7 linked regions of the Homo sapiens genome follow. The protein of the gene in region 5 purifies or fractionates together with the protein of the main gene of each other region. This does not show direct contact. Each region holds a gene or a part of one and is shown on either strand. Other genes may lie near its edges. The genes, in order: QPCTL, RSU1, ERCC6L, CDK16, SPDYE4, RPS10-NUDT3 and ZNF587B.

Region 1 (3,500 bases), on a different chromosome or scaffold from region 5:
TGGGACTACAGGCGCATGCCACCATGCCCAGCTAATTTTTGTATTTTAGTAGAGACAGAGTTTCACTATGTTGGCCAAGCTGGTCTTGAACTCCTGACCTCGTGATCCGTCCACCTCAGCCTCCCAAAGTGCTGGGATTACAGGCGTGAGCCACCGTGCCTGGTGACCCCATCTCTTAAAAAAAAATTAGCTGGGTGCAGTGGCATGCACCTGTCATCCCAGCTACTGGGGAGTATCCTTAGAGCCTGGGAGGTCAAGGCTATAGTGAGCCAAGATTGCGCCACTGCACTCCAGCCTGGGCAACAGAATGAGATCCTGTCTCAAAAAAATAAAAAATAAAAATAAAATAAAGGCTGGGCTTGGTGGCTCACACCTGTAATCCCAGCACTTTGAGAGGCAGGTGGATCACTTGAGCTCAGGAGTTTCAGACCAGCTTGGGCAATATGGCGAAACCCTGTCTCTACAAAATAAAAACAAACATTAGGCCAGGCGCGATGGCTCACACCTGTAATCCCAGCACTTTGGGAGGCCAAAGCGGGTGGATCACCTGAGGTTAGGAGTTTGAGACCAGCCTGGCCAACAGGGCGAAACCCCATCTCTACTAAAAATACAAAAAGTTAGCTGGGCGTGGTGACATGTGCCTGTAATCCTAGCTATTCGGGAGGCTGAAGCAGGAGAATGGCTTGAACCTGGGAGGCGGAGGTTGCAGTGAGCCGAGATCACGCCACTGCACTCCAGCCTGGGCAACAGAGCGAGACTCCATCTCAAAAAAAAAAAAAAAAAAAATTAGCCAGGCATGGTGGCACCTGCCTGCAGTCCCAGTGACTTGGGAGGCTGAAGTGGTAGGATCACTTGAGTCTGGGAGGTCGAGGCTGCAGTAAGCTGTGATCACACCACTGCACTCCAGCCTGGGGACAGAGTGAGACTCTGTCTCAAAAAAAAGTAATAATAAAAATTAAAATTAAAAAAATTAAAAATTGTTTTTAAAAATAAAGGCTTGGCTGGGCGCAATGGTTCACGCCTGTAATCCCAATACTTTGGGAGACTAAGGTAGGTGGATCACAAGGTCAGGAGTTTGAGACCAGCCTGGCGAATATGGTAAAACCCTATCTCTACTAAAAATACAAAAATTAGCTGGGTGTGGTAGCGTGTGCCTGTAGTCCTAGCTACTCCGGAGGCTCAGGCAGAAGAATCGCTTGTACCTGGGAGCACAGGTTGCAGTGAGCTGAAATTGTGCCACTGCACTCCAGCCTGGGTGACAGAGCGAGACTCTGTCACTAAATAAATAAATAAATAAACAAATAAATAAATAAGAAAATAAAATAAAGGCTCACCCAGCCTTTCCTCTACCTCCCTAGCCTTTCTAAGGAACTAGAGATTAGTAATAGTGATTACCAGACAGGGGCTCTAAGGTGAGACAGCCGTGGTTTCCAATCTTACCAGCTGGATGAACTTGGACAAGTGGCTTCATTTCTTTGAGCCTCAGTTTCCTATCTGTAAAACGGCCAGTGGGGGCCGGGCCTGGTGGCTCATGCCTGTAATCCCAGCACTTTGGGAGGCCGAGGTGGGCGAATCACAAGGTCAGCAGTTCGAGACCAGCTTGGCCAATATGGTGAAACCCCATCTCTACTAATAATACACAAATTAGCTGGGTGTGGTGGTGGGCGCCTGTACTCCCAGCTACTCAGGAGGCTGAGGCAGGAGAATTGCTTGAACCCGGGAGGCGGAGGTTGCAGTGAGCCGAGATTGTGCTACTGCACTCCAGCCTGGCGACAGAGCAAGACTCTGTCTCAAAAAAAAAAAAAAAAAAAAGGCCGGAGGGCCCAGACATAGTGGCTCATGCCTGTAGTCCCAGAAATTTGAGTGACCAAGGCAGGAAGATCACATGAACCCAGAAGTTTGAGGCCAGCCCGGGCAACACAGGAAGATCCCATTTCTACACACACGCGCACACACACACACACACACAATTACCCAGGCATGGGGGCATGCGCCTGAAGTCCTAGCTATTTGGGAGGCTGAGACTGAAGGATCACTTAGGCCAGCGAGATTAAGGCTGCACTGAGCTGGGATTGTCCCACTGCACTCCAGTGTGGGTGAGAGAGCAAGATCTTTTTTTTTTTTTTTGGAGACAGAATCTTACTCTGTCACCCAGGCTGGAGTGCAGTGGTGCAATCTCAGCTCACTGCAACCTCCACCTCCCAGGTTCAAGCAATTCTCCTGCCTCAGCCTCCCAAGTAGCTGGGATTACAGGCGCCCACCACCACACCCAGCTAATTTTTGTATTTTTAGTAGAGACAGGGTTTCACCATGTTGGCCAAGCTGGTTTCGAACTCCTGACCTCAGGTGATCCACCTGCCTTGGTCTCCCTAAGTGCTGGGATTACAGGCATGAGCCACCACACCAGGCCACAAGATCTTGTCTCAAAAAAAAGAATGTCTATGTCTTAGACTCTGAGGGATTGAATGAGACCAGGAACATAGTGAGCCCACAGGAAGGAGTAACTGGCATTCACTCTTGTTGGGCTGACCAGGGCTTTGTCTCTGGGTGCTCTGCCTTCCTCTGATTTGTGGACTGGGGACCTTCGACTACTAAGGACTAACCCTTCCTCTCTAATCGCCCCCACTTCCAGAGAAGCGTCTGCACCGTTTGAACCTGCTGCAGTCTCATCCCCAGGAAGTGATGTACTTCCAACCCGGGGAGCCCTTTGGCTCTGTGGAAGACGACCACATCCCCTTCCTCCGCAGAGGTACCAGCTGCAGGGAGGGATGGAGGGTGGGTGTCCAAGGAAGCCACAAATTGGAACTGGCCAAGTCCCCTTCCCAGGGCTGGGGAATGGTGCTAAGTGGCCTTAACCTCTTTGTGCTTTGATTTATTCATCTGTAAAATGGGGATAATACTCCCTATCTTAGAGTATTGTTGAGGGGATTGAACATGCTAACACCGGTAAAGACCTTACTTGGACCAGCACCCAGCACATAGCAAGCATTCCAGAAATGTTTGCAGCTGGGCACGGTGGTTCACAGCTGTAATCCCAGCACTTTGGGAGGCTGAGCGGGGTGGCGGGGGGGGATCCTTGAGCCCAGGAGTTTGAAACCAGCCTGGGCAACATGGCATAAATCTTGTCTTTACTAAAAATACAAAAAAATTAGCCGGGCATGGTGGTTCACACCTATAGTCCCAGCTACTCGAGAGGCTGAAGTGGGAGGAGCACTTGGGCCTGGGAAGTCAAGGCTGCAGTAAGCCTTGATTGAGCCACTGCACTCTAGCCTGGACAACAGAGGGTGATGATATCTCAAAAAAAAAAAAAGTGCCAGGCTGGGCATGGTGGCTCACACCTGTAATCCTAGCACGTTGGGAGCCTGAGGCGGGCAGATCACCTGAGGTCAGTAGTTTGAGACCAGCCTGGCCAACATGATGAAACCCCATCTCTACTAAAAATACAAAAATTAGACAGGTGTCGTGGTGCCTGCCTATAATCCCAGCTACCCGGGAGGCTA
Region 2 (3,500 bases), on a different chromosome or scaffold from region 5:
TGACGTACAACAACTTGAGCGAAAATTCTCTTCCTGGAAACTTCTTCTACCTGAGTAAGAAACTTTCAATTCTATAAATCTCCTCAACCTTGTACTTTGCGTTCTGAGAGGGAAATTTATTTGCCAGGACCCAAACTCCAAGAGAAATTATTGGACAGAGATAATTTTTTCTTTAGAGACTCCTTTTGAATATTCCTTCGTAGCTCAGCAGTATGTGCATTTGATAGATCGTTATGTGACACCATTGGGCTGAAGTGGACTTAGTAATGTCATATTAACATTCTGAGAGAGATTATATACCTAAATGAGATCAAGCCTCACATTTAGCTAAGAGACTTGACTTTCTTTTTAAATAGCATGCCAAAAAAAAAAAAAAAAGTATCTTCCTATGTTGCTATTAATTCTTTGTAGGATATTTGCCCAGGATATTCCAACCAATTATTTATTAAAAATATTTATTAATAAACCAGTAACACAATTTTAAAATTTTCCAGCCAGTATTCCTATTTTGAGCCTTTTAAAAAGTACTCTTATTGACCTATTTATCCAGTACACAGGCATTAAGAAATTATTGGCCACAGGTGAACACACTTTATTCTTTCATATGCAAACAAATTTCTTGCTGGAGATGCTTTTGAAAATTAAAAAATGATTTCTTCTGGGAACTCATGCACTATTTTGGACAAGGTTTGCTTCCCTTAAATCAGTGTTCTATTTCTTCAAATAGTAACTTGTGTGGCATTCAGAAAATCTGAATTTTCAGAGCTGATCTCTAAAATTTTATTTTTTACCTTACGTACATTACCTTTCTATGACTTTCTCAAGCACATGAAACCAACTATAAAATATTTTCTTGGGCAGTGGAGCAACTATTTTTATTATGTTATATTAACATGCAGTTCTCGGGAGTATGAGCTACAAAGATCACTTGAGGCTAGGAGTTCAAGACCAGCCTGGGCAACATAGAGAGACCCTGTCTCTAGAAATAAAAATTTAAAAAGTAGCCAGGCATAGTAGCATGAGCCTGTGATCTTAGCTACTTGGGAGGCTGAGGTAGAAAGAGTGCTTGAGGCCAGGAGTTTGAGGCTGCAGTGACCCACTGCACTCCAGCCTAGGTGACAGAGCGAGACTCTGTCTCTAAAAAATAAATACGGGTAAACAAAACATGTATCTAATTATACTCAGCTTTTTTGGTTGAAGATAAACAGATGCTTTAGAATTTTAGCCTTCAGTAGGTTGGAATCGTATTATCATTGTGTAATAATTATGAACAAATTTCTGACTACTGATATTCTCCTTAAGTTAGGATTTACTCTGTTAACTTCATGTCATTATTTTAGCCTCTTTGTCTTCATTTACTTTTGTCCTTAAGGCTGTAGAAACACGTAGTAATAATTAGTCAGATTATGGAACTGATGAGCTGTGGTTATAGCCTCCATCACCAGAAAGCCTTCCATTAATTTGTAACACAGTGCTATTTACATAGGAAAAGGTCTATTTTAACAGAGCTGTATTCTCTTGAAAGAACCCTTTTGCCCTAGGTATCCATAAAAGTGGCACAGTAGTGTTCTTTGTTTTACTTTGGATGCAAATGGAGAAATAAATGTGAATCAAAAGTAATCTATGAGAAGTATAGCAATCTTTTCTGAAAATGTGCTGAAACTCTGTGCCCCAAAATGCTGGCGCCCACAGTTGTTAATTGCGTCATTCCTCTTGGATATAGATGTTTTCCTGGACACACCAGCTACACAATAAGCCAGTAAATCTAAGTTTGACCTGCTTGTTATTATTGGGAGCCCTAGGTATGTCAAAGGCTTTTCACCAAGCCAGGGTTATTAATCAAAGCTGACTCCCTCGTATTGATCAGACCTCAAATGGTTGTGTTCCATGCCACCCTGTTTATATATTGCTGTTTAATTTGCAGCCACCCTGCGTGCACTCTATCTAAGTGACAACGATTTTGAAATCCTGCCGCCAGATATTGGGAAGCTCACAAAGTTGCAGATAGTAAGTAATTTATCTAAATTCTTAGAAAATCAATTCACTGCTGCAGCCTTGTAGGGGTAGAATCAAGTCAATTTGAGCAGGAGTAAGGTTTGTTTTGTGGGAATAAACCACTACTCCTGATAGTGTTTCTTGATTATCCGCCGGCACTTGTAAATACATGGAAAGGATTGAGCTTTAGTAGAAGAGAGGACATAGAGGATGAGAGTTTCTGTGGAGCACCTTTTAATGTGTAAATATGTTGACAACTTGTTTTCTTCTGTTTAGCTCAGCCTTAGGGATAACGACCTGATCTCGCTGCCTAAGGAAATCGGGGAGCTTACCCAGCTTAAAGAGCTCCACATTCAGGGGAACCGCCTCACCGTTCTGCCCCCAGAACTAGGTAAGGTTGCTGATGAATGAACTTAGTTCTGGGTTTCATGAATAACAATTATCCTAATGTAGCAATTCTGAACAACCTCTGTCCTCTTCTTGGCAACTACTCTCCACCTAGGCACACGATGCTGATCATTTGAGAACCATTTGTCATTGACCAGAGTTAGCTGTTACAGGTTTGACCTTCCCGGATCCTGTGTTCTGCAGCTGTAGTGTCCCCTGTCTTAGAAACTGCTGATGAAAGATGACCCCGCTCAGCTCCCTGCGTGATGTAGTGGGAAAAGCATGGGATTAGTAGTAAGAGCCTTATCCCTGGCTCCTCATTGACTAGCTGGGTAAGCTTTCTGGGTCTTGGTTGGTTATTAATAACTTTAAGTATCACTCTTACTTTTTAACCCCTTAAATTTTTATTGACCTGGAAAAACTTTTACCAAATAGTTAAAGTAGTTGTTATGGCTACTTGAACATGTTGATACCTCTGCGGGTCGTGAATTTGCCTCTCTCCTGATCCCATCTCTAGTAGGAATTGTTAAATATGTTCTTGCTGGGAATGGATCCTACTCCTGGCCGCTGAATCCTAATCCTGTTTCTCTGCCAGGTCGTTCCTATTTCCAGGGTGGGTTTATGTCCCCCGCCAGAAATAACCTCCAAGCCAGTAATTCTGTTACTGCTTCGTTCCACTGCAAAAGGTTCACGAGTTCCCTTATCTTTTCTTGTGCAGACCCTCCATAGCCTCTCATTTCTTCAGTCCTTTGAACCACATTGTTTTCTCAAACTGCGATTATTTGCTTTTCTACTCCAAAATACCATCATTTTTAAGAAACACATTGAGGAAGCAGTTCTTTAAACAAGTTTGGCAGTTTGAAGAGGCCATTTGTTAGAAATTAGAATGCAATCACCAGGAGGGCAGGGACATTTTTGTATTTGTTCCCTCGGGTACAGTAGGTGCTCAGAAAACACTGACTGAATGAATTAATGAAGCAAGGACCTTGGATGACAGGACGTTAGGAAGGTTATGAGCAGGCTCATGTGGCTAATGGTTACGCATAGGAAGACTGAGACACAGAGCACGCCTATCAGCACCTTGAGTTCTGTTGGCAGCCATATTAGTCTAAAGGGAA
Region 3 (3,863 bases), on a different chromosome or scaffold from region 5:
TTCCTGCAAGTAATCGCCTCCTCCTCACAGGAACCCCAATCCAGAATAATTTACAAGAACTATGGTCCCTATTTGATTTTGCTTGTCAAGGGTCCCTGCTGGGAACATTAAAAACTTTTAAGATGGAGTATGAAAATCCTATTACTAGAGCAAGAGAGAAGGATGCTACCCCAGGAGAAAAAGCCTTGGGATTTAAAATATCTGAAAACTTAATGGCAATCATAAAACCCTATTTTCTCAGGAGGACTAAAGAAGACGTACAGAAGAAAAAGTCAAGCAACCCAGAGGCCAGACTTAATGAAAAGAATCCAGATGTTGATGCCATTTGTGAAATGCCTTCCCTTTCCAGGAAAAATGATTTAATTATTTGGATACGACTTGTGCCTTTACAAGAAGAAATATACAGGAAATTTGTGTCTTTAGATCATATCAAGGAGTTGCTAATGGAGACGCGCTCACCTTTGGCTGAGCTAGGTGTCTTAAAGAAGCTGTGTGATCATCCTAGGCTGCTGTCTGCACGGGCTTGTTGTTTGCTAAATCTTGGGACATTCTCTGCTCAAGATGGAAATGAGGGGGAAGATTCCCCAGATGTGGACCATATTGATCAAGTAACTGATGACACATTGATGGAAGAATCTGGAAAAATGATATTCCTAATGGACCTACTTAAGAGGCTGCGAGATGAGGGACATCAAACTCTGGTGTTTTCTCAATCGAGGCAAATTCTAAACATCATTGAACGCCTCTTAAAGAATAGGCACTTTAAGACATTGCGAATCGATGGGACAGTTACTCATCTTTTGGAACGAGAAAAAAGAATTAACTTATTCCAGCAAAATAAAGATTACTCTGTTTTTCTGCTTACCACTCAAGTAGGTGGTGTCGGTTTAACATTAACTGCAGCAACTAGAGTGGTCATTTTTGACCCTAGCTGGAATCCTGCAACTGATGCTCAAGCTGTGGATAGAGTTTACCGAATTGGACAAAAAGAGAATGTTGTGGTTTATAGGCTAATCACTTGTGGGACTGTAGAGGAAAAAATATACAGAAGACAGGTTTTCAAGGACTCATTAATAAGACAAACTACTGGTGAAAAAAAGAACCCTTTCCGATATTTTAGTAAACAAGAATTAAGAGAGCTCTTTACAATCGAGGATCTTCAGAACTCTGTAACCCAGCTGCAGCTTCAGTCTTTGCATGCTGCTCAGAGGAAATCTGATATAAAACTAGATGAACATATTGCCTACCTGCAGTCTTTGGGGATAGCTGGAATCTCAGACCATGATTTGATGTACACATGTGATCTGTCTGTTAAAGAAGAGCTTGATGTGGTAGAAGAATCTCACTATATTCAACAAAGGGTTCAGAAAGCTCAATTCCTCGTTGAATTCGAGTCTCAAAATAAAGAGTTCCTGATGGAACAACAAAGAACTAGAAATGAGGGGGCCTGGCTAAGAGAACCTGTATTTCCTTCTTCAACAAAGAAGAAATGCCCTAAATTGAATAAACCACAGCCTCAGCCTTCACCTCTTCTAAGTACTCATCATACTCAGGAAGAAGATATCAGTTCCAAAATGGCAAGTGTAGTCATTGATGATCTGCCCAAAGAGGGTGAGAAACAAGATCTCTCCAGTATAAAGGTGAATGTTACCACCTTGCAAGATGGTAAAGGTACAGGTAGTGCTGACTCTATAGCTACTTTACCAAAGGGGTTTGGAAGTGTAGAAGAACTTTGTACTAACTCTTCATTGGGAATGGAAAAAAGCTTTGCAACTAAAAATGAAGCTGTACAAAAAGAGACATTACAAGAGGGGCCTAAGCAAGAGGCACTGCAAGAGGATCCTCTGGAAAGTTTTAATTATGTACTTAGCAAATCAACCAAAGCTGATATTGGGCCAAATTTAGATCAACTAAAGGATGATGAGATTTTACGTCATTGCAATCCTTGGCCCATTATTTCCATAACAAATGAAAGTCAAAATGCAGAATCAAATGTATCCATTATTGAAATAGCTGATGACCTTTCAGCATCCCATAGTGCACTGCAGGATGCTCAAGCAAGTGAGGCCAAGTTGGAAGAGGAACCTTCAGCATCTTCACCACAGTATGCATGTGATTTCAATCTTTTCTTGGAAGACTCAGCAGACAACAGACAAAATTTTTCCAGTCAGTCTTTAGAGCATGTTGAGAAAGAAAATAGCTTGTGTGGCTCTGCACCTAATTCCAGAGCAGGGTTTGTGCATAGCAAAACATGTCTCAGTTGGGAGTTTTCTGAGAAAGACGATGAACCAGAAGAAGTAGTAGTTAAAGCAAAAATCAGAAGTAAAGCTAGAAGGATTGTTTCAGATGGCGAAGATGAAGATGATTCTTTTAAAGATACCTCAAGCATAAATCCATTCAACACATCTCTCTTTCAATTCTCATCTGTGAAACAATTTGATGCTTCAACTCCCAAAAATGACATCAGTCCACCAGGAAGGTTCTTTTCATCTCAAATACCCAGTAGTGTAAATAAGTCTATGAACTCTAGAAGATCTCTGGCTTCTAGGAGGTCTCTTATTAATATGGTTTTAGACCACGTGGAGGACATGGAGGAAAGACTTGACGACAGCAGTGAAGCAAAGGGTCCTGAAGATTATCCAGAAGAAGGGGTGGAGGAAAGCAGTGGCGAAGCCTCCAAGTATACAGAAGAGGATCCTTCCGGAGAAACACTGTCTTCAGAAAACAAGTCCAGCTGGTTAATGACGTCTAAGCCTAGTGCTCTAGCTCAAGAGACCTCTCTTGGTGCCCCTGAGCCTTTGTCTGGTGAACAGTTGGTTGGTTCTCCCCAGGATAAGGCGGCAGAGGCTACAAATGACTATGAGACTCTTGTAAAGCGTGGAAAAGAACTAAAAGAGTGTGGAAAAATCCAGGAGGCCCTAAACTGCTTAGTTAAAGCGCTTGACATAAAAAGTGCAGATCCTGAAGTTATGCTCTTGACTTTAAGTTTGTATAAGCAACTTAATAACAATTGAGAATGTAACCTGTTTATTGTATTTTAAAGTGAAACTGAATATGAGGGAATTTTTGTTCCCATAATTGGATTCTTTGGGAACATGAAGCATTCAGGCTTAAGGCAAGAAAGATCTCAAAAAGCAACTTCTGCCCTGCAACGCCCCCCACTCCATAGTCTGGTATTCTGAGCACTAGCTTAATATTTCTTCACTTGAATATTCTTATATTTTAGGCATATTCTATAAATTTAACTGTGTTGTTTCTTGGAAAGTTTTGTAAAATTATTCTGGTCATTCTTAATTTTACTCTGAAAGTGATCATCTTTGTATATAACAGTTCAGATAAGAAAATTAAAGTTACTTTTCTCAAGTGTTTTCCATCCACTTTGTTTCACTGAGATGATACTGGCAGATCTTAAGATATGCTTGTGAACATGCTGTTTCATGCTTTCAGCTTAATACAGGTTGAGCATCCCTAATCCAATCCAAAATGGGGAAAATTTCTGAGTGCTGACATGATGCCACAAGTGAGGAAAGTTCCATACCTGATGTCATGTGACATGTCACAGTCAAAATGAAGGTGTATAACACACTGTTTACTCAGCATCCCCAAGAGAAAAGAGATTCTGTTAGACCCCTTCAGCTACTATATATCCTTTCCACACAGGCCCAGATTCTCCCATGCAAGCCTGCCTACAAAGGGTAATAAAATGGTTCAACATACACAAACTTTGTTTCATGCACAAAATCGTTAAAAGTAATTATAAAATTACCTTCAGACTATGTATATAATGTGTGTATGAAACATAAATGGATTTCATGTTTAGACTTGGATCCCATCTCCAAAATATCTCATTATGTGTATGGAAA
Region 4 (3,500 bases), on a different chromosome or scaffold from region 5:
TGGTTCTAAGACCCCCCAAAACACTCTGGCTTTCATGGGAATGCCTGTCACCCACATATCCAGGTAATAATCAGGGTAACCAGGAATCTGTTCCCATTTGGATAAAAGGTAGATGAATTGCAAACCAGGGTTTGGTTCTGAGAACACCCCTGAAAGTGCTCACCAGTTTATTTACTGTAACAATTTCTAGTCAGAATATCACATGGAATGAATTTGAATTGCACTGAAATTTAGTGTGCAAATTCGATTTCACGCGATGCTGCAGGCCTATGTACTGAGGGTTGGAGCCAGGCCCCTTCCCAGAAACCAAAAACAGGTTGTGAAAATCTAGTGTCACATGAGCCTGGGGCTGCAATCCCAGGTTCTTGCTCCATACTCTCCTCTGAGTCTTATTTTCCACATCTGCAACATGGAGACACAACTTTCTTCTGGCATGAGGCGGGTTAGAGCTGGTGGCTCCGAGGCATTACCCTGAACTGTCTAGAGAAAGAAAGAAAACCTGGGCTTGTCCCTTTCTAGTCCTTGTCCTCACCTCTGTCCTGAGGGTAGGACCCTGACTCTTCCCCTGTCCCACTCCCATGCTTCCTGCAGTGTCCCTGCTCAAGGACCTCAAACACGCCAACATCGTTACGCTACATGACATTATCCACACGGAGAAGTCCCTCACCCTTGTCTTTGAGTACCTGGTAAGGTTGAGTGGCAGTAGGTCCCAGGGGGAGGTGAGGAGAAGGCCAGGAGCCATAGGAAGTAACCCTCATTCCTGTACCACCTCTTCTTTCCTCAGGACAAGGACCTGAAGCAGTACCTGGATGACTGTGGGAACATCATCAACATGCACAACGTGAAAGTGGGTGTGGGGCAGGAAGCAGGGGCACAAGGGGGCCCCCACTCACCCACTCCAACCCACAAATCTCCCAGAAACGGACTTTTCCCTTTGGCTTTTTTTGCTAGGAGCCCTTGGAGGGCACTGGGACCCTGTCCTCTTTTGTGTGACAAGGCTCTGGGCCTAGTGTCTGTGTTTGGGAGGGGAGCAGTGCCTGCTGGGGGTCGGGCTAGTGGATAGTCTTTGACCTCTGCCTGCCATTCCTGGGTCCCCAGCTGTTCCTGTTCCAGCTGCTCCGTGGCCTGGCCTACTGCCACCGGCAGAAGGTGCTACACCGAGACCTCAAGCCCCAGAACCTGCTCATCAACGAGAGGGGAGAGCTCAAGCTGGCTGACTTTGGTACCACTGGCCTCCCCTTTCTTATTGGCTCCCCAGCCTCCTACTTTCCCATGACCACTTAGTCTCACTTCCCTTCAGCCTTGCCAGATTTTGCCTAGGACACCCTCAGTCTCAACTGCACTCTCCCCGAGACTTTGCCCATGACTCCCTCATTCTAGCTGTCCTTTCTCTGATTTCCAGGCCTGGCCCGAGCCAAGTCAATCCCAACAAAGACATACTCCAATGAGGTGGTGACACTGTGGTACCGGCCCCCTGACATCCTGCTTGGGTCCACGGACTACTCCACTCAGATTGACATGTGGTAAGGACAGGTGGAAGTGTGGCAGGGGCCATGTGGTAAAGGGGGTGGCTTGGTCACAACAGCCACCCAGCCAGCTGCCTTTCTATTCACTGTGCCCTCCCTGCCCAGGGGTGTGGGCTGCATCTTCTATGAGATGGCCACAGGCCGTCCCCTCTTTCCGGGCTCCACGGTGGAGGAACAGCTACACTTCATCTTCCGTATCTTAGGTGAGGAGGCATGGGCCCTAGGCGCTGTGGAGACACACGGGGAGGACCTGTGAAATGTTTGGGATAACTCCTCTTCCCTACTAGGAACCCCAACTGAGGAGACGTGGCCAGGCATCCTGTCCAACGAGGAGTTCAAGACATACAACTACCCCAAGTACCGAGCCGAGGCCCTTTTGAGCCACGCACCCCGGTGAGGCTGGTGGGTGGGTGGGCGTTAGGGGCCAGAGTGTCCAAACTCATTTTAAATCAGGTCTCTTTGTCCTTGTGGCAGACTTGATAGCGACGGGGCCGACCTCCTCACCAAGCTGTTGCAGGTGAGACCACCTTGGGTCAGCCTTGGGGGTATGGGATTCCAAGTGTGGGGAAACAGGGACCCCCCCCCTCAAACCAGGGGCAGGGTCTGAGGTGGGCAGAGAGACCTACTTGTTGAAGATATCAATACTATCCCCCTCCCCGCACCCCCACTCAGTTTGAGGGTCGAAATCGGATCTCCGCAGAGGATGCCATGAAACATCCATTCTTCCTCAGTCTGGGGGAGCGGATCCACAAACTTCCTGACAGTGAGTGGAGCTGGGGAATGGACCGGCCAGCGTGGGGACTGGGAAACAGGACTGCTGGGGCCAGCTGGCGGGTTGTGTAGGATTCTGGCTGTGCCACCTCTACGTGGGGGGACATCTTGTTCACGTGTGTGATGGGTTGTATTTGTTATGAAAACATTTTTTAGTTTTCAGTTCCTTTTACCTTTCATGAAAAATTTAAAACATACATAAAAATATATGCAATAGCACTTTACTTTTTTTAAAGTAGACATTTCCTTACATGTGCTAAAAAATGCACAAATCATAAGTATACTATACAATGAATTTTCATAAATGAAACACATCCTTGTAACTAGCACAAAAGTCAAGAAACAGAATGTTAAAAGCTCCCCACCCCCAGCTCCCTTGCATCTCCTTCAGTTATTCCCAGCCCCTTCCCAAAGGGTGGCCACTGTTTTGACCTCTAACAGCAAGGATAAGTTTTTTCTGTCCTTGTACTTTATAGAAATAGAATCACATGTGATGTTCTTTTTATATCTGGCTTTTAAAAACTTTTTAATATGGATATTTTCAAATATATGTATTTATATATTAGTCAAAGTAATATGATGAGTCCCTAAGTACTCCAGTGAGTCATCAATTCATGGTCAATCTGGTTTTATCTATATTCTCTCTGATTATTTTGAATCACATCCAATCCCAGACATCATAGCATTTATCCTTAAATAATTTCAGCATATACCTATAAAAGATTTTTTTAAAACAACAATATTATTATCAAACCTACAAAAAACATTTGCTCACTTTCCCTATCTTCCCACTGGATTAATATATAAAGCAAACCCCAAACACCACCCATCACCTAGACTTAACAGGTGGTAATTGCAATACCATAATTCACTTGACAAAGTTAATAATGATTTCTTTGTGTCATGTAATAGTCTATATTTCATCTTCCCTGGTTGTAGCTGGTTTGTGTATGGAATTGTTTGACAGATAAAGGTCAAGCCTCTCAGAGAAGGGGCAGCTTTTTCTAATTCTTCCCATGGGGTCATATGGGGCTGGTCCTAGATGACCTCATGGGTCATCCCCCACTTCTATGTCTCCCCCATCTGTAGCTACTTCCATATTTGCACTAAAGGAGATTCAGCTACAAAAGGAGGCCAGCCTTCGGTCTTCGTCGATGCCTGACTCAGGTAGGTATAGCCCCTTGTCTTCCTCCCTGCCCCACC
Region 5 (2,597 bases):
TGGTGGGCGCCTCTAGTCCCCACTACTCAGGAGCCTGAGGCGGAAGGAACACCAGAGCCCCGGAGGTCGGGGCTGCAGTGAGCTGTGATTCTGCCACTGCACTCCAGCCGGGACGACAGAGTGACACTCTTTCTCAAAAATGAGAATACTACCTAGGTCCAGGGAGGTTCATTATGGTTGATACACTTGAGTTACTGATTTGAGGAAAGGATTCAGTGAAGATTTGGTTGACATCTTGTGCAGCTAACCACATTTAGGACCAAGCATTAGACTAAAACATGAGAGATTAAGGTTGGGGATTAGGAATCTGGTCTGCTGGTTCCTGAGGTTGTCGTGTTAGACATGTTTGTAGCATGGTTAAAAGTTTAGATCTTAAGCAATATAAAGGGCCCCAAGTGTGATGAAGTCCAAAGCCACGTCCTCCAAGGGTGCTCTACTCCCTGGGTGGAGCCACCCAAAGTCCTTGCTATGAAGCAGATCACTGGGGCTAACCTTGGGTATATTAAGTGATTTTTGGAGTCAAGCTCACCAAAGTGTGAGTACCAGAATCAAAAATGATGGTTCAGAATCAGGGTTTACAATAAAGGGTTAGAGATAAAATCAGATTTATATATTGCTCTGAACTCTAGTTAGGATTGATGTGGGATGGGAATAACCTTCCTATCTAGAGATCTCCCTCCTTGAAGTGTGACATCCTCTCTCTCACTTCCAGAACACTGGGCCCAGGGGAGATGGGAATTTTCAGCAGGAAGTTTATCGCGACGCTAATGCCAGACACCAGGAAGGGAGAGAGGAGCCTCCTGTGCAGATCATCTAGAAGAAGCTGGACTCTTCTAGAAGGGGCAAAATAGATTGACCAGGTTTTCCTCCTAGGAGCCATGGAGGTATTTCTAGGAGTCAGTGGAGGGAAAGTGAGAAACCAGGGGTGTTTCTGGTTCCACCCCTTCCTGCGGCAAAACCTCCCTTTTCACGTTGCTGAATCCCAGCCTCCCCTGGGCTGGAAGCTGGAGTTCCTGTTTCCTATGGACTTGGTTGCCACAGTCCAGAGCATTTGAAGGCACAGCGCAGGCACTCAGATTGTTACGGAATTCTTTGTAAAATATGAAATTACTGCCATAGGATTTTAAGAGATAGTTTAATAGATACTGTACATTTTGTTGGTTTATTTTTCAAATGTTGGCCATAGAATTATTACTAGGTTGATTTAAAATAGTTTGGGGTTTTTGTAGTTTTGAAAACATGCTGTTCCTATAGAGTTCTCTGACGGTTGTTATATACACATAAATATAATTTAGTTTTCATTTTTAAGAGAGGATTCTTTTTATCGTAAATGTTTTCTCTTTAAATCGTTTTATCTATTATTAAATGTGCTCCTGAAGCGAGCACTCTTGTAATCTATGATACTGACCTAATATATCCATTATATTTATAGCTAGGTGGTAGTTCCCCTACATTCTTGCAAATAGAAATGTTTATTTTCTGTTTACTGTTTGTTACTGAATTGTGAGAATTCAGTTGTGATTTTTAACATGCCTTCCATATATACTAACATGTCCAATATATACTATACATTTTATTTGTTTATTTTGAAAATGATGGGCATGGCATTATTACTACATTTATTTAACTAGTTTAGAAATACAAGTATTTTTTAAAAGACACTGTTCTTATGAAGTTGTGTGATGGGTGTTACACCTGTTATATACACATAGATATAATTCTGTTTTCATTTTTAAGAGAGGATTCTTTTTATCCTAAATGTTTTATTTTTAAATCTTTTTATCTGTTATTACATGTGCTGCTGAAGGGAGCACTGTTATGACCTAGAGTAGTTACATAATATATCTATTCTATTTATAGCTAGGTGGCATTTCCCCGAAATTCTTGTAAAAATAAATTTTTATTTGATGTTGAGTGTTTGTTTGTTATTGAACTGTGAGAATTCAGACGTAATTTTTTAGCTTGTATTGAAAGGTTTGTATGTTACTTTAAAGAGGACATGTGTTTGAAAGGAGGACAGGAGCTGTGTGTTTCAAAGAGGACAGTGCACTGCGCTACCTGGGAAAATGCAATAAAGATGAAGTTTTCTCATCTTCACAACGACTGTGACCATATTGGTCTGGATTGCTTATTTGTTGTCCAATGACATTTTTGTTTAATGCGGTTTTAGTTATTTGAACAAATCTATTAACCCTGGAAAATAATGCTGAATCTTTTTGTTTGTTTGTTTGTTTGTTTTTGAGATGGAGTCTTGCTCTGTCACCCAGGCTGGAGTGCAGTGGCGCAATCTCAGCTCACTGCAAGCTCCACCTCCTGTGTTCACGCCATTCTCCTGCCTCAGCCTCCCAAGTAGCTGGGACTACAGGCACAGGCCACCATGCTCGGCTAATTTTTTGTATTTTTAGCAGAAACGGGGTTTCACCGTGTTAGTCAGGATGGTCTTGATCTCCCGACCTCGTGAGCCATCCGCCTCGGCCTCCCAAAGTGCTGGGATTACAGGCGTAAGCCACCTCCCCTGGCCCTTTATTTTATTTTATTTTATTTATTTATTTATTTATTTGAGACAAGGATCTTGTCCCATTCCCCAGGCTGAAATG
Region 6 (3,376 bases), on a different chromosome or scaffold from region 5:
GGAAAATGGAGCAGGAACACAGCTACCTGAGGCTGCACAGCTCATTGGAGCCATTTATGTGATTGGAGCCCAGCACTTTGGCTTCAGAGTCCTTGTTCCTGACCATAACACTCTAGCAGAGCTGGTCAGGATTCAGAGTACCTGAAAGCATGATCCAATTTTGGTTGTCTCAAGATTGTTTCTTTTTCAAGTATATGAAAAAAGGGCAGTTGTGCTAGGGTATTGAGAGTGGTTTTTTCTGGTTTATAAGATTATGGGTAGTTATTACTTTTATAAGATAAAAAATATAAAGGATTTTAAAGCATGGACTAGAAAAGAGTAAGAAAATAGACTGAAAAATAAAAGTGTGATTGTATTGAGATTATTTTTACTTCTTTTAAGAAATATTTTCTATTATGTAGATAAATTCACTCTTATAAGAAAACTTTTAAATGAATTACTGATTACAAACCAGCCATCCTAGTAATTCTGGAAGCTGATGCTCGTGTTGATTTTTCCCCCCTTGGGACAGGGTCTCACTCTGTCACCCTGCTGGAGTGCAGTGGCGCGATGACAGCTCACTGCAGCCGCGACCTTCCGGGCTCAGGTGATCCTCCCACCTCAGCCTCCTGGGTAGCTGGGAGTACAGGCACATGCTACCATGCCCAGCTAATTTTTGTATTTTTTGTAGAGACAGAGTTTTGCCATGTTGCTCAGGCCAGTCTCAAACTCCTGGGCTCAAGCGATCCGCCCACCTTAGCCTCCTAAAGTGCTGGGATTGTAGGCGTGAGCCACCTCATCCGGCCCTCATGTCAGTTTTTACAGGAGATGGGGATGCTGCTGGGCTTTGATCCCTATGTATGTGCAAGCAAGGAAAGCTCAGAGACGCAGGAGGGCAGGAGGAAAACACTAGCCGTAGTTCTCTCTGGAGGGCAGGTTTTACACAATTACTCTTAGCTCTTTGGTTTTCAGGTTTCTCACCTTTCTGCATTAGACATTGATATAATATTTGAAGCATATGAAGTGTGCTTGAGTTATTTTTGTAAGGAAAAAAAGTGTTAAGAAACATTGCTTTAATGTTTTCTATATTTTCTCAAAAGTTCTAGGCTCAGAAACCTTATTACTCTTGTACTAGTTTCTTTTCTCTCTGCCTCCACAGGAAGGAAGAGGGAATGGTTTAAAATAGAAGACGCCATAAAAGTGCTGCAGTATCACAAACCCGTGCAGGCATCATATTTTGAAACATTGAGGCAAGGCTACTCAGCCAACAATGGCACCCCAGTCGTGGCCACCACATACTCGGTTTCTGCTCAGAGCTCGATGTCAGGCATCAGATGACTGAAGACTTCCTGTAAGAGAAATGGAAATTGGAAACTAGACTGAAGTGCAAATCTTCCCTCTCACCCTGGCTCTTTCCACTTCTCACAGGCCTCCTCTTTCAAATAAGGCATGGTGGGCAGCAAAGAAAGGGTGTATTGATAATGTTGCTGTTTGGTGTTAAGTGATGGGGCTTTTTCTTCTGTTTTTATTGAGGGTGGGGGTTGGGTGTGTAATTTGTAAGTACTTTTGTGCATGATCTGTCCCTCCCTCTTCCCACCCCTGCAGTCCTCTGAAGAGAGGCCAACAGCCTTCCCCTGCCTTGGATTCTGAAGTGTTCCTGTTTGTCTTATCCTGGCCCTGGCCAGACGTTTTCTTTGATTTTTAATTTTTTTTTTTTATTAAAAGATACCAGTATGAGATGAAAACTTCCAATAATTTGTCCTATAATGTGCTGTACAGTTCAGTAGAGTGGTCACTTTCACTGCAGTATACATTTATCTACACATTATATATCGGACATATAATATGTAAATAAATGACTTCTAGAAAGAGAAATTTGTTTAATTTTTCAAGGTTTTTTTCTCTTTTAATTTGGGCATTTCTAGAATTGAGAGCCTCACAATTAACATACCTTTTTGTTTTCGATGCTAGTGGCTGGGCAGGTTGCCCTGTCCTTTCTCTATTTCCCAGTCATTGACTGTAGATATGGGAAGAGTTTAGCTACCTTCATAGTGCTCCCAGGACTCATGGCCTTTCCTTCTTTAAGCTGTATTTCCCTGCCCAGAAAGAAACAGGAAGAAACCTTTTTTTATTTTTTTATTTTTTTTTAACCAAGCAAGGAGCAAATGGCCTCAGCCCAGATCTGTAAAAACAATGATAGAAATTGAATTCTGCCCCACATGTTGACAGTAGAGTTGGAACTGGATTCTTGGGATTACTTATCTAAAAAACTGGAGCATCAGGTCCATTTCTGTTCTGCTGGTTTGGAATCTTTTCCGTAATGCTATTTATTGCCAACAATGGCCTCTCTTTGTGTCCATATATGCCTTACACCGTGCTGACCTGGGTATCATCCATGTGCTCTGAAGCATCCAACTTTACTTTGCAGGTGCATCAATGTAGTCCTGTCCCTGAACTGAGTAACCGTGTTCCTGAAAAGTACACTAGGGAAATTCACCTGCTTGCTTGTCTTTGTATTGGCATGGCACTTGTGATTGCACCATGGAGCATGCTCAGAGCTATTAAATTGGTCTCCCATCTCCCACCAGGATATGAAAGGTCCATATGGGAGGCCACGTAATCACTTATTACAGTGGTTACATAATACACTGGCTCACTGCAGACTCTCTTGTTTTTTGATACAGTTTCGTGCTGGCTTCATTTGCCAATTGTGTTGTTTAGTTCGGAAGTAAGAGGGTCTTGAGATTGAGGGGTAGGGAGGGCTACACTGACTGATCCGTGGCTTAAGACAGGAGATTATCTCTGTACTCCAGTGGCATCTCCTTAGCCAAGATGTGAAATTAAAATCATAGTTCGCCTCATTTAAAAATTCTAATAAAGCACTCAAACTTTGAAAAGCTTTTACTTTTCCCTCCTACTAAAAGAAATGTATGTACCTCATAGCCCTGTGTCATTTAGTGTTCAGCACTTTTGGGAACATCAGTTGGTGAACTTTAAATTTTGCTGTCTACTCACTGGGCACGGTGGCTCACACCTGTAATCCCAGCACTTTGGGAGGCTGAGGCAGGTGGATCACCTGAGGTCAGGAGTTTGAGACCAGCCTGACCAACATGGTGAAACCCCGTCTCTACTAAAAATGCAGAAATTAGGTGGGCGCCTGTAATCCCAGCTACTTGGGAGGCTGAGGCGAGATAATCGCTTGAACCTGGGAGGCAGAGGTTGCAGTGAGCCGAGATTGCACCACTGTCGTCCAGCCTGGGTGATAAGAGTGAAACTCCATCTCAAAAAAAAAAAAAAAAAATTTTTTTTTTTTTTTTTGCTATATACTCTTAGTTTACATCCTCTCCCCCAATCTTCACACACAGAGCCAAAGAGCAGTTATATTCTTGGGATACCA
Region 7 (4,258 bases), on a different chromosome or scaffold from region 5:
TGCCACCTGCTGACTGTACAGGGCTAGGGCCTTGAGGGAACACAGGCGATAGCCATGTAGTGGTCACAGGAGCCTTGGGTGAAACCCAGTGCTGTGCTGGCTTCAGCTCTCACCCAGCACAGTCCCAGTGGTGGTAGCTAAAGGGGTGCTTCTGTCCCAACCCCCAGTTTCAGGCACTTCAGCACTGACAGAGACATGCTGGGACAAAGTGAGGGAAGACCCAACAAGAGTCTCTACCTGTTATGTTAATCAAGGGAAATCTTTCAGATCTTATTCAAGACCACAAAGGTGGTACAGCTCTCTGAGTCTGCAAGAGTCACAGCATTACTGAGTGTGGGGTTCCCGCTAAAGTAGATTCAGCTTAGATCACAACACCCGGGTCCTTTCAAATACCTGGAAACTCTTCCTAAGAAGGACAGGTACAAATGAGCCCAGACTGTGAAGACCACAATAAACACCTAACTGTTTAATGCCCAGACACTGACGAATATCTACAAGCATCAACACCATCCAGGAAAACGTGACCTCACCAAACAAACTAAATAAAGCACCAAAGACGAATCCTGGAGAAACAGAGATACGTGACCTTTCAGACAGATAATTCAAGATAGCTATTTTGAGGAAATTCAAAGAAATTCAAGACAAACACGGAGAAAAAATTCAGAATTCTATCAGATAAATTCAGCAAAGAAATTAAAATAATTAAATAGAATTGGCCGGGCACAGTGGCTCACGCCTGTAATCCCAACACTTTGGGAGGCCAAGGCGGGCGGATCACAATGTCAAGAGATTGAGACCATTCTGGCCAACATGGCGGAACCCCGTCTCTACTACAAATGCAAAAATAAGCCGGGCATAGTAGTGCATGCCTGTAGTCCCAGCTACTCGGGAGGCTGAGGCAGGAGAATGGCATGAACCCGGGAGGTGGAGCTTGCAGTGAGCCGAGATCGTGCCACTGCGCTCCAGTCTGGGCGATAGAGCGAGACTCTGTCTCAAAAAAAAACAAAAAGAAAAAGACAATTTGTATTTCACAGGGCACTCTGCTATAAAGGGTAAGATGTTTTGTTTAGTAAACAAATAAAAAAATAAAGACAGCCAGGCACGGTGGCTCACGTCTGTAATCCCAGCACTTTCGGAGGCCGAGGCGAGCGTATTGCCTGAGCTCGGGAGTTCGAAACCAGGCTAGGCAACATGGCGAAACCCCGTCTCTACTAAAAATACAAAAAATTAGCCGGGCATGGTGGCGGGTGTCTGTAATCCCAGCTACTTGGGAGGCTGAAGCAGGAGAATCGCTTGAACCCGGCAGGCGGAGGTTGCAGTGAGCCGAGATCACGCCACTGTACTCCAGGCTGGGTGACAGACTGAGACTCTGTCTCAAAAAAAAAAAAAATAAATAAATAAAATAAGCTGGGCTCGGTGGCTCGCGCCTGTAACCCCAGCACTTTGGGAGGCCGAGGCAGGTGAATCACCTGAGATCAGGTGTTCGAGACCAGCCTGACCTACATGGAGAAACTCCATCTCTACTAAACATACAAAAAATTAGCCAGGTGCAGTGGCGCATGCCTGTAATGACACCTACTCGGGAGGCTGAGGCAGGAGAATCGCTTGAACCCAGGAGGCGGAGATTGCGGTGAGCCGAGATCACGCCATTGCATCCAGCCTGGGCAACAAGAGTGAAACTCCGTCTCAAAAAAATAAAAAATAAAGACTGCATCTAACGAGGTAAGGTCACCAACGAGCACACTGTTCCACTATCAGTTCTCACTAGAGGATTCTGTGATGTAATGCCCAACCTTGTTTTTACTAACCCTGTTTTTAGATTCTCCCTTTCCTTTAATCACCTAGACTTGTTTCCACCTGAATTGACTCTCCCTTACATAAGAGAGCCAGACAGACTCCATCTTGGCTCTTTCACTGGCAGCCCCTTCCTCAAGGACTTAACTTGTGCAAGCTGACTCCCAGCACATCCAAGAATGCAATTAACTGATAAGATACTGTGGCGAGCTATATCCGCAGTTCCCAGGAATTCGTCTGATTGATAACGCCCAAAGCCCCCCATCTATCACCTTCTAATAGTCTTAAAGCCCCTGCACCTGGAACTGTTTACTTTCCTGTAACCATTTATCCTTTTAACTTTTCTTGCCTACTTTACTTCTGTAAAATTGTTTTAACTAGACCCCCCCTCCCCTTTCTAAACCAAAGTATAAAAGAAAATCTAGCCCCTTCTTTGGGGCCGCGAGAACTTTGAGCGTTACCCATCTCTTGGCCGCCGGCTAAATAAACGGATTTTTTTTTAAATAAACGGACTCTTAATTCGTCTCAAAGTGTGGCGTTTTCTCTAACTCGCTCAGGTACAGTGACTATAAAAGATTAGGCCTTCAGCAGCTCAAAAGGGCTGTCCTGACAGTCACTCCTAATAAAAACTCAGCATCTGCTGCCTATGGCTCTGCCACCTTAAAGACTCTTCCTTGCAAGACTACAGGCTTTTGGGTGATGATGAGGTGACCTGAGGGCATGGAAGGCACCACAATTACCTGAGCAGAGAGCCTCAGCGTGGCCACCACCGCCATCGAACCACGTGGTTTAAAGCAGGGTTGGGAGGAGAGGGTGACCAGCCAGGAGATATGGGCATGACGGTCCCTATCCTGGCCCAGGGGTGGGTCACGCTTGGCGCCGTCACAGAGCTCCAGAGTCGCCTCTGTGCAGCAGAGGACAACTGTTCTCCGCCTTCTGGGTTCAGTCACCGCAGTGCCGACCTAGCGCTCAGGAGCCTCTCCGACAAATAAACCCAACACCAATCAAAATGGCCGCCACCAGAGGGCGCCGGAAGTCCGGACCCATTGTCACGTGCACACAGGAAATGCCTTTATTCTGAGCCCCCATGGCTCTTCCACTCTGTCATTCCATGCGGAGTTTTCTGGGTAATGTAGTTCCCTAGGTAACAAGGAGGGTAAAGGGCACAATTCCCAGAGGCGGTTCTGCAGGAAAAGCCCAGCTCCACCTCAGGAGTATCCTTAAGATATGCGCCCTGACTGGTATGGTGGCTAGCTCCTGTAATTCCACCAGTTTGGGAGGCCAAGTCAGAAGGATCATTTGAGGCCAAGAGTTAGAGATTAGCCTGAGCAACAAAGCAAAATCCTGTTTGAAGGGGGCCTGCCCCTCCATACCTATGGGTATCTCTCATCAGGTGGAGACGAGAGACTGAGAAAAGAAATTAGACACAGAGAAAAAGTATAGAGAAAGAATAGTGGGCCCAGGGGACTGGCACATTCAGCATGTGAGGACCTTCACCGGCGCCGGTCTCTGAGTTCCCTCAGTATTTATTGATCATTATTTTTACTCTCTTGGTGAGGGGAGTGTGGCAGGGCAACAGGGTGATGGTGGGGAGAAGGTCAGCAGGGAAACACGTGAGCAAAGGAATCTGTATCATGAATAAGTTCAATGAAAGGTACTGTGCGTGGATGTGCACATAGGCCAGATTTATGTTTCACTTTAAACAAACATCTCAGTGTAGCAAAGAGCAACAGAGCAGTATTGCTGCCAGCATATCTCGCTTCTAGCCACAGGGTAGTTTTCTCCTATTTCAGAATACAACGAATGGGAATGGTTGGCTTTACACCATGACATTCCATTCCCAGGAATGAGCAGGAGACAGAAGCCTTACTCTTATCTCAACTGCAAAGAGGCCTCCCTCTTTCACTCCTCCTCCTCAGCACAGACCCTTTAAGGGTGTCCGGCTGGGGGATGTAAGGTCTTTCCTTTCCCATGAGGCCATATCTCAGGCTGTCTCAGTGGGGGAAACCTTGGACAATACCCAGGCTTTCTCAGGCAGAGGTCCCTGCAGCTTTCCGCAGTGCATTGTGTCCCTGGTTAATAGAGAATGGAGAATGGCGATGACTTTTACCAAGCATACTGCCTGCAAACATATTGTTAACAAGGCACATGCTGCACAGCCCTAAATCCATTAAACCTTGATTCAATACAGTACGTTTCTGTGAGCACAGGGTTGGGGCTAAAGTTACAGATTAACAGCATCTCAAAGCAGAACAATTTTTCTTAATACAGATCAAAATGGAGTTTCTTATGGCTTCCTTTTCTACATAGACACAGTAACAATCTGATTTCTTTTCCCCATATCCTGTCTCTGCAAAAAATAAAAAATATTAGTGGGGTGAGGTCAGGCAGGCCAGTGGTCCCAGCTGCCCCAAGGTTGGGGTTAGGGTTAGGGAGCCTGAAGGAGGGAGAATCGCTTGAGCTC

The links.
Region 1: the proteins of SPDYE4 (region 5) and QPCTL purify together in Homo sapiens (affinity purification with mass spectrometry; one large-scale study listed by BioGRID and IntAct). This does not show direct contact.
Region 2: the proteins of SPDYE4 (region 5) and RSU1 purify together in Homo sapiens (affinity purification with mass spectrometry; one large-scale study listed by BioGRID and IntAct). This does not show direct contact.
Region 3: the proteins of SPDYE4 (region 5) and ERCC6L purify together in Homo sapiens (affinity purification with mass spectrometry; one large-scale study listed by BioGRID and IntAct). This does not show direct contact.
Region 4: the proteins of SPDYE4 (region 5) and CDK16 purify together in Homo sapiens (affinity purification with mass spectrometry; one large-scale study listed by BioGRID and IntAct). This does not show direct contact.
Region 6: the proteins of SPDYE4 (region 5) and RPS10-NUDT3 purify together in Homo sapiens (affinity purification with mass spectrometry, with the first as the bait; one large-scale study listed by BioGRID). This does not show direct contact.
Region 7: the proteins of SPDYE4 (region 5) and ZNF587B purify together in Homo sapiens (affinity purification with mass spectrometry; one large-scale study listed by BioGRID and IntAct). This does not show direct contact.

What each region holds. Positions count from the first base shown.
Region 1 is NC_000019.10:45,699,166-45,702,665, forward strand, and holds part of QPCTL (glutaminyl-peptide cyclotransferase-like protein), read left to right. Parts: intron 1-2,632; coding exon 2,633-2,749; intron 2,750-3,500. UniProt on the Homo sapiens protein: Responsible for the biosynthesis of pyroglutamyl peptides.
Region 2 is NC_000010.11:16,751,425-16,754,924, reverse strand, and holds part of RSU1 (ras suppressor protein 1), read left to right. Parts: coding exon 1-54; intron 55-1,924; coding exon 1,925-2,007; intron 2,008-2,271; coding exon 2,272-2,386; intron 2,387-3,500. UniProt on the Homo sapiens protein: Potentially plays a role in the Ras signal transduction pathway. Capable of suppressing v-Ras transformation in vitro.
Region 3 is NC_000023.11:72,204,165-72,208,027, reverse strand, and holds the end of ERCC6L (DNA excision repair protein ERCC-6-like), read left to right. Parts: coding exon 1-3,014; 3' UTR 3,015-3,363; downstream 3,364-3,863. UniProt on the Homo sapiens protein: DNA helicase that acts as a tension sensor that associates with catenated DNA which is stretched under tension until it is resolved during anaphase. Functions as ATP-dependent DNA translocase. Can promote Holliday junction branch migration (in vitro).
Region 4 is NC_000023.11:47,225,181-47,228,680, forward strand, and holds part of CDK16 (cyclin-dependent kinase 16), read left to right. Parts: intron 1-591; coding exon 592-686; intron 687-784; coding exon 785-847; intron 848-1,098; coding exon 1,099-1,222; intron 1,223-1,402; coding exon 1,403-1,523; intron 1,524-1,631; coding exon 1,632-1,729; intron 1,730-1,813; coding exon 1,814-1,919; intron 1,920-2,000; coding exon 2,001-2,043; intron 2,044-2,198; coding exon 2,199-2,289; intron 2,290-3,386; coding exon 3,387-3,464; intron 3,465-3,500. UniProt on the Homo sapiens protein: Protein kinase that plays a role in vesicle-mediated transport processes and exocytosis. Regulates GH1 release by brain neurons. Phosphorylates NSF, and thereby regulates NSF oligomerization. Required for normal spermatogenesis.
Region 5 is NC_000017.11:8,750,353-8,752,949, reverse strand, and holds the end of SPDYE4 (speedy protein E4), read left to right. Parts: intron 1-712; 3' UTR 713-2,097; downstream 2,098-2,597.
Region 6 is NC_000006.12:34,286,694-34,290,069, reverse strand, and holds the end of RPS10-NUDT3 (RPS10-NUDT3 protein), read left to right. Parts: intron 1-1,138; coding exon 1,139-1,317; 3' UTR 1,318-2,876; downstream 2,877-3,376. Other genes in the region: NUDT3 (diphosphoinositol polyphosphate phosphohydrolase 1), read left to right, coding at 1,139-1,317.
Region 7 is NC_000019.10:57,828,841-57,833,098, reverse strand, and holds the start of ZNF587B (zinc finger protein 587B), read right to left. Parts: upstream 2,801-4,258; 5' UTR 2,571-2,800; coding exon 2,535-2,570; intron 1-2,534. UniProt on the Homo sapiens protein: May be involved in transcriptional regulation.